Regions from separate parts of the Homo sapiens genome. Here region 2 is linked to region 1. A link means that fine-mapping ties the variant in region 1 to the expression of a gene that starts in the linked region. Tissue or cell type: lung. Region 1 holds a variant in brackets; the other region holds the start of a gene. All regions are shown on one strand. Distances are between the middles of the regions.

What was found.
Region 2: it holds the start of UGT3A2, and the variant in region 1 is fine-mapped to the expression of UGT3A2 in lung (TOPMed, PIP above 0.99). The same link has a PIP of 0.9 or more in blood mononuclear cells.

What each region holds. Positions count from the first base shown.
Region 1 is chr5:36,084,356-36,089,742 of GRCh38, forward strand. No RefSeq gene overlaps it. Among named protein-coding and RNA genes, the nearest start is that of UGT3A2, 20 kb to the left of the region's middle. The variant C/T (reference allele first, on the strand shown) is at 2,569.
Region 2 is chr5:36,063,558-36,068,944 of GRCh38, forward strand. UGT3A2 (UDP glycosyltransferase family 3 member A2) reads right to left here and starts at 3,325. Exons shown (of 7, transcript NM_174914.4): 1 at 3,139-3,325; 2 at 692-793. The coding sequence starts at 3,232.

The DNA.
Region 1 (5,387 bases):
CAGTTCACCAACAAGAGTTCTTAACCAGGATGAACTGGCTGGAATTACAGAAATAGAATTCAGAATATGGATAGGAACAGATATAATTGAGGTTCAGGAGGATGGAAAAACCTAATCCAAAAAAATAAAAAATAAAAATCAAGATAAAGTGATACAGGAGCTGAAGGACAAAATATCTGGTATAAAAAAGAACTTAATGGATCTGACAGAGCTGAATAACACAATACAAGAATTTCACAATGCAATCACAAGAATTAGCAGAATAAACCAAGCTGAGGAAAGAATCTCAGAACTTAAAGACTGGTTCTTTGAAATAAGAAAACCAGACAAAAATAAAGAAAAAAGAATAAAAAGGAATGGACAAAACCTCCAAAAAGTGTGGGATTATGTAAAGAGGCCAAATCTATGAATCACTGGCATCCCTGAATGGGCAGGGAAGGGAGGGCAGGAAGCAAACAACTTGGAAAACATATTTCAGGATATCATCCATGAAAACTTCCCCACCCTTGCTAGACAAGCCAACAGCCAAATTCAGGAAGTACAGAGAACTCCTAAAGGGTCTACAAGAAGATCATTCCCAAGACATATAATGGTCAGATTTTCCAAGGTCAAAATGAAAGAAAGAATGTTAAAGGCAGCTAGGGAGAAAGGGCAGGTCACCTACAAGGGGAACACCATCAAGCTAACAGCAAATCTCTCAGCTGAAACCTACAAGCCAGAAGAGATTGGGGGCCTATAGTGAACATTCTTAAACAAAAAAAATCTTCGACCAAGAATTTCATATCCAGCCAAACTAAGCTTCCTAAACGAAGGAGAAATTAGATCCTTTTCAGATAAGCAAATGTTGAGGGAGTCTTATAAGAGATCTTGCAAAAAGCACTAAATATAAGAAAATACTGTTACCAATCACTACAAACACACATGAAGTACACAGACCAGTGACACTATAAAACAACCACACCATCCAAGCCAACATAATAGCCAGCTGACACCACAATAAGATCAAATACATACATATCAATACTAAAATTGAATGTAAACAGGCTAAATGCCCCCACTTAAAAGGCACAGAGTGGCAAGCTGGAATAAAAAAAAAGCAAGACCCAATGGTATGCTGTCTTCAAGAGACCCATCTTACATGAAATGACAGCCATAGGCTCAAAATAAAGGGATGGAGGAAAATCTAACAAGCAAATGGAAAACAAAAAAAAAAGCAGGCTGCATTCCTAATTTCAGATAAAACAGGTTTCAAACCAACAAAGATAAAAAAAGACAAAGCATTTTATAATAATGGTCAAGAGTTCAATTCAACAAGAAGACCTAACTATCCTAAAGATATATGCACACAACACAGGAGCACCTAGATTCTTAAAGCAAGTTCTTAGAGACCTACAAAGAGACATAGACTCACACACAATAATAGTGGGAGACTTTAACACTCCACTGACAGTATTAGGCAGATCACTGAGGCAGAAAATTAACAAAGATATTCAGGAACTAAACTCAACATTGCACCAAATAGATCGGATAGACCTTTACAGAACTCTCTACCCAAAAGCAACAGAATATACATTCTTCTCATTGCCACATGGCACATACTCTAAAATTAATCACACAATTGGATATAAAATAATCCTCAGCAAATGCAAAAGAACCAAAATCATATCAAGTCATGGATTAAAGGTTTAAATATAAAACCCCAAACTATAAAAACCCTGGAAGACAACCTAGGCAATACCCTCCTGAATATGGGAATGGGCAAAGACTTCATGACAAAGACACCAAAAGCAATCATGACAAAAGCAAAAATTGACAAGTGGGATCTAATTAAACTAAAGAGCTACTGTACAGCAAAAGAAACTATCAACAGAGTAAACAGACAAACTGCATAATGGGAGAAAATATTTGCAAACTATGCATCTGACAAAGGTCTAATATCGAGCATCTATAAGGAAGGTAAACACATTTACAAGAGAAAAACAACCCCATTAAAAAGTGGGCAAATGACATAAACAGATATTTTTCAAAAGAAGACATACATGCGGCCAACAAGCATATGAAATGAAAGCTCAATATCACTGATAGAGAAGTGAAAATCAAAGCCACAATGAGATACAATTTCACACCAGTCAGAATGGCTACCATTAAAAAGAAAAAAAAATAACCGATGCTGGTGAGGTTGCAGAGAAAAGGGAACACTTATACACTGTTGGTGGACGTGTGAATTTGTTCAACCATTGTGGAAAGCAATATGATGGTCCCTCAAAGAGCTAAAAACTGAACTACCATTCGACCCAGCAATCCCATTACTGGGTCTATACACAGAGGAATATAAATCATTCTATGCCCTTTCTCTACCTTTTGATTCCTGCTCTGCTCTGCTGACCTCTCATCTTGGCCCTGCCTAGAAGTCCAGGACTGGCAGGTCTCCATGGAAATCACATAGGGGACAGGCCCTTTGCTGAAGTGGGCAAGTGATGCCCTGACCAGCACTGACACAGTACACCAACTTGAGATACACAGAGTCCACCTTCGATGTTCACATGTCTCCCTTTCTGAACCTTCTCT[C/T]GATTTTTGGGTGCCCCATCACCCTTCTTACGAATTCTAACTAATTCTGTACTCCCCACCCCACCCCAACTCACAGGGAAGAGACAGAGAAGTGGTGAGGTTTAAAAAGCAGCACGAGGGTCTCCCTGTCTAGTATACTAATGAATACACCTGTACCTATTATAATGCAGTAGCCCAGATCAGGGCAGGATGGTGACTCACTAAATTCACTCATTTATACCTGGTTGATCCTGCCAGTTAAAGAAATGCACCCATTTATCTGTTGAGTCAACACAAATTTGTTGAGCATCTACTATGAGCCAGGCAGGGGTGATTCTTCAAATAAGACAAACAAAAACCATCCCCTGTGGAGCTTGTATTTGAGTAGAGAGATGAGCATTAGTATATAGTATATTAGGCAGTGATAAGGAGAAAAAAATAAAGCAGGAAAGTCCCCTCTGAGAAATGACTTCCCAATAAAGACCTGAAGGAAGAGGGTGAGCTAACCATGCAGATGTTCAGTGTTTCTTAACAAATGAGTCCCTGCTATGGGGCAGCATTATGGTTGGCATTTGCAAGGGCATTATCTGATTATGATCCTCACAGCAACCGTGAGGAGTATTGTATGATAAGACACCCCTTTCTCTTTTTTTAAACAAATAATGAGTTTGAGGTTCAGGTTTACTGACTTAACCAAAGTTCCCAAACACCATATTAAGAGATACCACTCTCTTATCAATTTTAATAATTAGTAGTTTTAAAATTGTTCACATACATAACCATGTCATAAGAAATAAAAGCTTGTTTCTTTTTTTCCTTATCCTTAGGTCTTTCAGTTCTCTTTTCTTGTCTTATTATTTTGGGACACACAATGTTGAACAGAAGTAGTGAAGGCAGGCATCCTTGGCTTGTTCTGGATCTCAGAGGGAAAGAATGTAGCATTAAGGATACTTGCAGTAGTTTTGTGTTCTTGTTTACGAATACATATTTACTTATAGGTAGATAGATAAATAGATAAACATTTATTAGAAAATGAATGTTTACTTTTATTCCTTGTTTCCTAGGACTTTTAAAACACATAAATAAATATTGAATTTTATTTAAATGTTTCCTGCATCCATTTGTGATGGTCATGTGACTTTACTCTTTTCCACCATTAATGTGATTTATAATAATTTATTTTCCTTTTTAAAACCCTTTTAAATTTTGCGGCCAGTCACGGTGGCTCATGCCTGTAATCCCAGCACTTTGGGAAGCTGAGGTGGGGGGATCACTTGAGCTCAGGAGTTTGAGACCAGCCTGGGCAGCAGGGCGAAACTCATCTCTACTAAAATTACAAAAATTAGCTGGATGTGGTGGTGCACACATGTAGTCCCAACTACTCAGGAGGCTGAGGTGGGAGAATCGCTTGAACCCAGGAGACGGAGATTGCAGTGAGCCGAGATTACACCACTGCACTCCAGCCTGGGCAACAGAACAAGGCTCTGTCTCAAAACAAACAAACAAACAAACAAACCTTTCAAATTTTGAAATGTAACCCATATCCAAAAAAGTGCATAAAATATAAATATACAGTATAGTGAATAAGGATGAATAGAAACATACTTGTAAAAAATATTCAAGTGAAGAAACAAAACATTGCCCCTTGAGTGATATCTCTGAATCGGAAGCACTGACTTTTATAGTCAGTCCCCTCACTTGACTTTCTTTATAATTTGCCCAACTATGTATGTATTTCTAAACAATAAAGTTTAGGTTTTGGTAGTTTTCCTGTTTTGGCTATATTGGATATATATTTTAAACCATTCTATCTTTCTTCTATTTAAAGCTATATCCCATTTCTATTCTTTTAATGATTGCAGAGGTTCTAACAAGTGTCCTTAACTTCTCAAAGTCTACGTTAAGCAATATCTTTACCCTCTTTCTGAATATTACCGCAACCTAAAAACACTATAACACTATTTCCTCCACTCCCAATTTATATGGTGAGTTGTGTAATTTAATTCTCTCTATATGTAAGTTTTGCCTTTTTATGATGAAATAAAATGTACATACAGCAAAGCACATACAAAAGAAGGTACTACTTAATAATTCACTACAAAGCGAACCCCTGTAAAACCACCACCGAAGTCAAAAAATAGAACGTAGCCAGCAATCCAGAAGGCTCTTCTGTGCATCATTGCAATCACTAATCCCTTGGTCCCCCTCAAAGGTAAGCAATAGCCTGACATGTATGGTAATCTCTTCCTTGATGTTTTAAATGTTTTTACCACTAGGCATTCCTCTTTTAACTCTACAATTTTATTTTGCCTCCTTTTGAATTGTATGTAGATAAAATTATATTCGATTATTTTTTCCTGTTTTGCCTCTTTTGATCCATATTATGTTGGTGAGTTTTATCCATGTTGTTGTATAGCTGTAACAAATTCATTTCCATTTATTCAGTGAATTTATCCATCCTTTTAGGAAAATTCATTCTGTTGAATGAGTTGTTTGTGATTGGGCTATTATGAATAATGCTACTATGAAGAATATTTTACATATCTCTGGGTGCACATATACACATGTGGATATATATATATATATATGTACATATACAGTAAAATTCCTGAGTATGAGTACTTCAACTTTAGTAGATATTACCAAAATCGTTTTAATGTGGTTTTACCAATTTATACCCAGTGTTCAGTTGCTTCACATTCTTGCCAATACTTATGAGAAAAGAAAAGAGTGCTTATCTGAGGAATATGAGTCTTTTTAAATTATTAGGCCCAGAGAAACATTAAAATGGGACAGTAATCACGTTCTATCCTCCCCTTGAGCTATGTACTCATCTCATA
Region 2 (5,387 bases), 21 kb before region 1:
AGGAAAAGTAATCTATAAAAAGAACAGTGATTCTTACATGTAAGAAGTGTTAAATAAGGCTGAATATTTCTGTTCTATCTATATACAGAGAGTCTTTGAGGTGGAGTCTCACTCTGTTGCCCAGGCTCTAGTGCAGTGGTGCATTCCCAGCTCACTGCAACTTCTGCCTCCTGGCTCAAGCGATCCTCCACCCTCAGCCTCCCAAGTAGCTGAAACTACAAGTGGGTGCCACCATGTCAAGCTAATTTTTGTATTTTTTGTAGAGACAGAGTGTCCCTATGTTGCTCAGGCTGGTCTCAAACTCCTGGGTTCAAGTGATCCACCTGTCTCAGCCTCCTAAAGTGCTGGGATTACAGGTGTGAGCCACCTTGCCCCACCATGTTTAATATATTTTTTAAGCCATCTTATAAAGTAGTATTTGTTAAAATAATCCATAATAATGAGTGGATGGTTGCTTGGGATGGAGTAGAAGTCAAGTAAGGGGAAAAAAAAATATGGGAGTATGGAACGTCAGGTCCCGGTAATTAGAGACTAAGAAGTTTTTTGGCACTTTACATACACACACACACAAGCTTTTCATCCTTCCAATTGAATTAGATTTTTAAAAAACATTTTGCTAAGCCTTTCTATGCAAACAGCATTTTGCTCTTTGCTTGGAGTAGGAGAAATCAAGAAAAGTGAGAAAAGATACCTGGCATAAAAGGACCTCTTTTGTGGTTAAGCATGGTGACATTATGACCGTGATCTTGAAGAATCTGAGAAACCCGGTCCATCAGTAGATAATGGCTTCCACCTAGGAACAATGCACAACTTCAGTTCTGGAATGATGAGAATACAGTGTCTGAAGTCAGTAGTGATCAATCCAGGAGAGGAAAGGTAAGGAAACAGAAGTGGATAGTGATTGGAGGAAGATGAGTTTTGCCAGTCTCCTCATGTCCCTCTGGGTAAAACCCAGCCCACTCACCCAGAGCATGGCCGCCCAAATTTTTACCTGTGGCTCTGGTCCGTGAGAGATTGCCTCTTGTGAATCACGGTATCCATGTCAGTGTAATGAGCTACTATGTGCTTAGCCATGGGAGTTCCTCATCCTGAGGTACATGTATATTTTAACTAAGGCCTTATGGAGACACAGAGTCCAAAAGAAATCACGGCACTGGTGGAAATACAGGTATGGTGTTGTACATATGAGTGTGAATAGTTCCTAAAAAACAATGAGAGCTGTTTCTGGGATCCTGCTCTTTGGACATTTCTGCTGCTGTAGGAGATAGAAACCTTAAGAGATTGGTCCAAGAAATCATCACTGGAACAGAAGGAATGAGGGGCCACTACTTAGAATCCAAATCCTTAAGATTCCAATGTATTTTGAAAGGATGTACTTAATTTAGGCCACACAATGATCAAGTTCTAATTAAGACATTTGAGGACAACTGTGGGGCGCTTGGGGTGGGCCTGCTGGATCCTGGTTGCACGAGAGACTAGGGAATCATTGATTCCAGAAACATCCATCCTAAGGAAAGAGAAGCTTGATCCTCAAAAGAGGTACAAGTTCCACGAAATCAATGTCTTCTCAGTACATGTTCTAATACACAGCCTTTGCTTGAATCTAAGGTTCTCAGCAGCAGAGAAAGGAAGATCAGAAGAGAAGGTAATGTAATAGTAAATACCAAAAGCCTGCGGGGTGGGGGTGGAAGGGAGTAGAGAAGTAGTGTTCAGCTCTCTGAATGACTCAGTTTACTTATACCCAGGCTTGAATAGTCTGGAGCAACAAGGGACGTATAAAGTACAAATCTGCAACAGGTCTTGCTCACATTTTAATCCACGTAAGAACAGGGAGCTGGGAAGAAGGGGTCCCCACAGAAACAGCTGTTAGCGGTGGATCTTGGGGAGTCAGGTGGCTTTCTGGGGCAAAAATCAGCATTCTAGCACCTCAGAAATGACATCAACTCCTTCTTGGAGCCTGAGGAAGGAGGGCTGTGTACTTTCAAGAAGTTAAGAAGCTCTGTTGCTTCACTGCTACTAACACTCAGAAAGAGGGGGAAAAAGTCTTCAAATGGACTTGCACTGTTTCTTAAACAGTGATTTTTGAAAATCCCCAGTGAAAAGGGCTTCAGAGTGGAAGTTGTGGTGAGCATGGTCTTGCAGTAAGAAAACCCTGAGTTAATTCCTCATGGGACATCAGGGAGGCCACAAGTGCTCTTAAGGAAGGCATCTCACTCCCCATCCTTCAATTGCCCTCTCAGGAAATGAAAATGGGCACTAAATTAGATGATCTGTGGTTCTTCCCAGCCCTACGAGCCCTAATTCTCCATGATCTAAAAGGAATCCATTAGAACCCACTATGGGTTGAAATAAAGTCTTGGGGAAGCTCGATCCTGAGATGATCCCTTTATGTTCATATATGTTTCTCTTTTATCTTCTATTCCCTTTGGGGTAAAAGTAAAAGAAGTAAAACTGAGACCCAAAATGCAGAATTAACAGTCCCATGAATCCCTCAAATAACGGTCAGCGGCACAGGTAAAAGGAAAGATACTCCAAAAGATGCGAATGACCTGGATCTTCTCCTCAGCCCTCGGCAGTTCTCCAGGTTTCCCCTGGTGGAAAACACTCCACTGGCATTGCAGCCATGAAATACCTGCCTGCGCCACCCTGGCTCCGGATGCAGCTTCACAACATTTGCAGTGCTGCCCTCAGGAGGGCCTTTCCCTGGTCTCCAAGAGCCTGAAAACGCTCACCACTGTTTCTACTGGAAGCTACTGTGCACCCACACACACGCACCCTCCGGAGCTTAAGGTGAGCCTCTGAAAGTCCCACTGCGCCCTGGAGAAGGCAGCCCAGGAACTCAAGCTCTGGGATGAGTCTCAAATTTCTGGCCCCAGCCCTGCGGGATGGGGGCGCGTCCTGAACAGGAAGAAGACAGTAAAGGAGAATCTCTTTTCTCCAAAACTTTCTTCCCCACCTCAGCAATAGAGGCCCCTCTCTGCCCCACAGCTGAATGGGCTTCTCCCTCCTCCAGCCGGGTCCGCAAGCCCAGCCTGGAAAATCACGTGGATGACTCTGATCAAGCGCTGTTCTCTGGAGCCCTGGCAGTGCGAGTATCCGGGACGCGCCTGTCTGGGAATTCTCCGGCCAAGCACTCACCTACTGTAGATATTGTCAGGATTTTGGCAGCCTCTGAGAGCAGGACCCCAGGGAGAAGGAAGCCCACTAGAAGAAGCACTCGCTGCCCAGCCATGCTCACTTCTACGGAAGCCGCGGATCTCAGCCTGGGCTGCGCGCCCTGCGCCCGGCTAAGGGACCCTGTGCACCTCAGTGCGCCAAAGGCACTGGCTGTGGGTAGAGGTAGGAGTAAGGATCCTGCCAGTCTTCTCTTCTGTCCATCCCCTCTTGCCCTCTGCCCCTCCTCCCTCGTGCTCCATTGGATAATCTATCCTCGCTCTACCAAACTACCAGCAGTCAGTAGGAGGGGTCGGTGAGCCCATACTTAACCCTGCTCTGCCCTTGTGATCACAGCCCTCCTGCCTGGAAAATCCTTACTGTGAGTGAGGAATGGCAGGGACCTCAGTAAATCGAGCTGATGAAAGCTCTATCTCCATGGGACCCACCTCTCTTTTGCAAAGGCTGTGTGAATTTACCTACTCTAGTTCCCTTCTAACTGCCTCTATTACCTCATACTGCCAGCCCCGCGATCTATTTCCTGAGAGACTTGCTTAAAATCTTGAGCTGATGTTCCAAGCCCAAGACCTCCCTGGAAGGGAATCCCCAAGGGAAATCAATCTACCATCCCTGGAATCTATCTCTTAGTGTCTCTTTAGAAGGTAACATTCCTGAAAAGAGGCTAGAGTCCTACCTCTGGAAGTCCAGGTCTGTCCCTGGAGGACTGAAATTCAAAAGCTGAGACTATCATTCTGAATGAGTATCCTGAAATAGGACTGGTGAATCTTTCCATAATTTCCAAGAGCACATGCTGATGACAGCTTGTAATTCTGCCTCCGTGCAATGTCAGCCCCAGTGAGGTCAGGGATCACCAGGTCCGGTAGTCCCCTTTACTCTCTATCCTCAAACTAAGACTTCCTTTAGGAAAGGCTTTCAGTGCAACTCTAAATAAGCAGAGAAATCCTTGGTTGCAGTGGGTCCTTGAATTCTGCGTGTTCTATTCCTGCCTTCTTCAGTCTACAGGGGTTATTTTTTCTCATTGGAATTTAAAGCATTACATTCTTATGCATTTGTGCATCCCTCACCTAGCCATGCCTATTGTGGAGAAAGAGGAGAGAGAGAGAGAGAGAGAGAGAGAGAGAGAGAGAGAGAGAGAGAGAAAAGTGTGGGAAGGGCGAGGTTTACCAGACATCACAAGGCTCCAGTTCGTCTTATTCTTGTACTTTTCATAATGCATTAGCAAAATAAAGGATTTGTTATCAAACTCCAAGATTTTTATTTATTCAACAATTATATTGATAGATTTTTTTTTTTTTTGAGACAGAGTCTCGCTCTGTCACCCAGGCTAGAGTGCAGTGGTGCACTCTCAGCTTACTGCAACCTCTGCCTCCCAAGTTTAAGCAATTCTTCTGTCTCAGCCTCCCGAGTAGCTGGGATTACAGGTGCCTGCCACCACACCCGGCTGATTTTTGTATTTTTTAGTAGAGACTGGGTTTCACCATGTTGGCCAGGCTGGTCTTGAACTCCTGACCTCACATGATCCACCCGCCTTGGCCTCCCAAAATGCTGTGATTACAGGCATGAGCCACCACGCCTGGCTGATAGCTATTTATTATGCCAGGCATTGTTCTGCCAGGCAAACTGATACTAAACACACTAAGAAATAAAATATATAGTACATTAATGGCAAATGTTACTAAGAAAAATCAAATGGAAAGAGATATGAAGAGTCAGGTATCAGATTCGTTAACGTTTTACATAGCATGATTCCAATGGACTCTAAAATATTATAGGAGTATCAGAGATATATGAACCCAAATTTTGAAAATATTAACTAGTTATTGTTGCTTTGGAGAAGAGTTCTATGTAATTGTGGTTATAAACATCTTATAAAGAAATTCTGGCTGGGTGCAGTGGTTCATGCTATAACCCCAGCACTTTGGTAGGTGAGGTGGGGGGAACACGAAGTCAGGAGTTCAAGGCCATCCTGGCCAATATAGTGAAGCCCCGTCTCTACTAAAAATGCAAAAATTAGCCAGGCATGGTGGCATGTGCCTGTGGTCCCAGCTACCCGGGAGGCCGAGGTGGGAGAATCGCTTGAACCCAGGAAATGGAGGTTGCAGTGAGCCGAGATCGCAGCACTGCACTCCAGCTTAGGAAACATAGTGAGACTTTGTCAAAAAAGAAGGGAGGAAGGAAGGGAGGAAGGGAGGGAGGGAGGGAGGGAGGGAAGG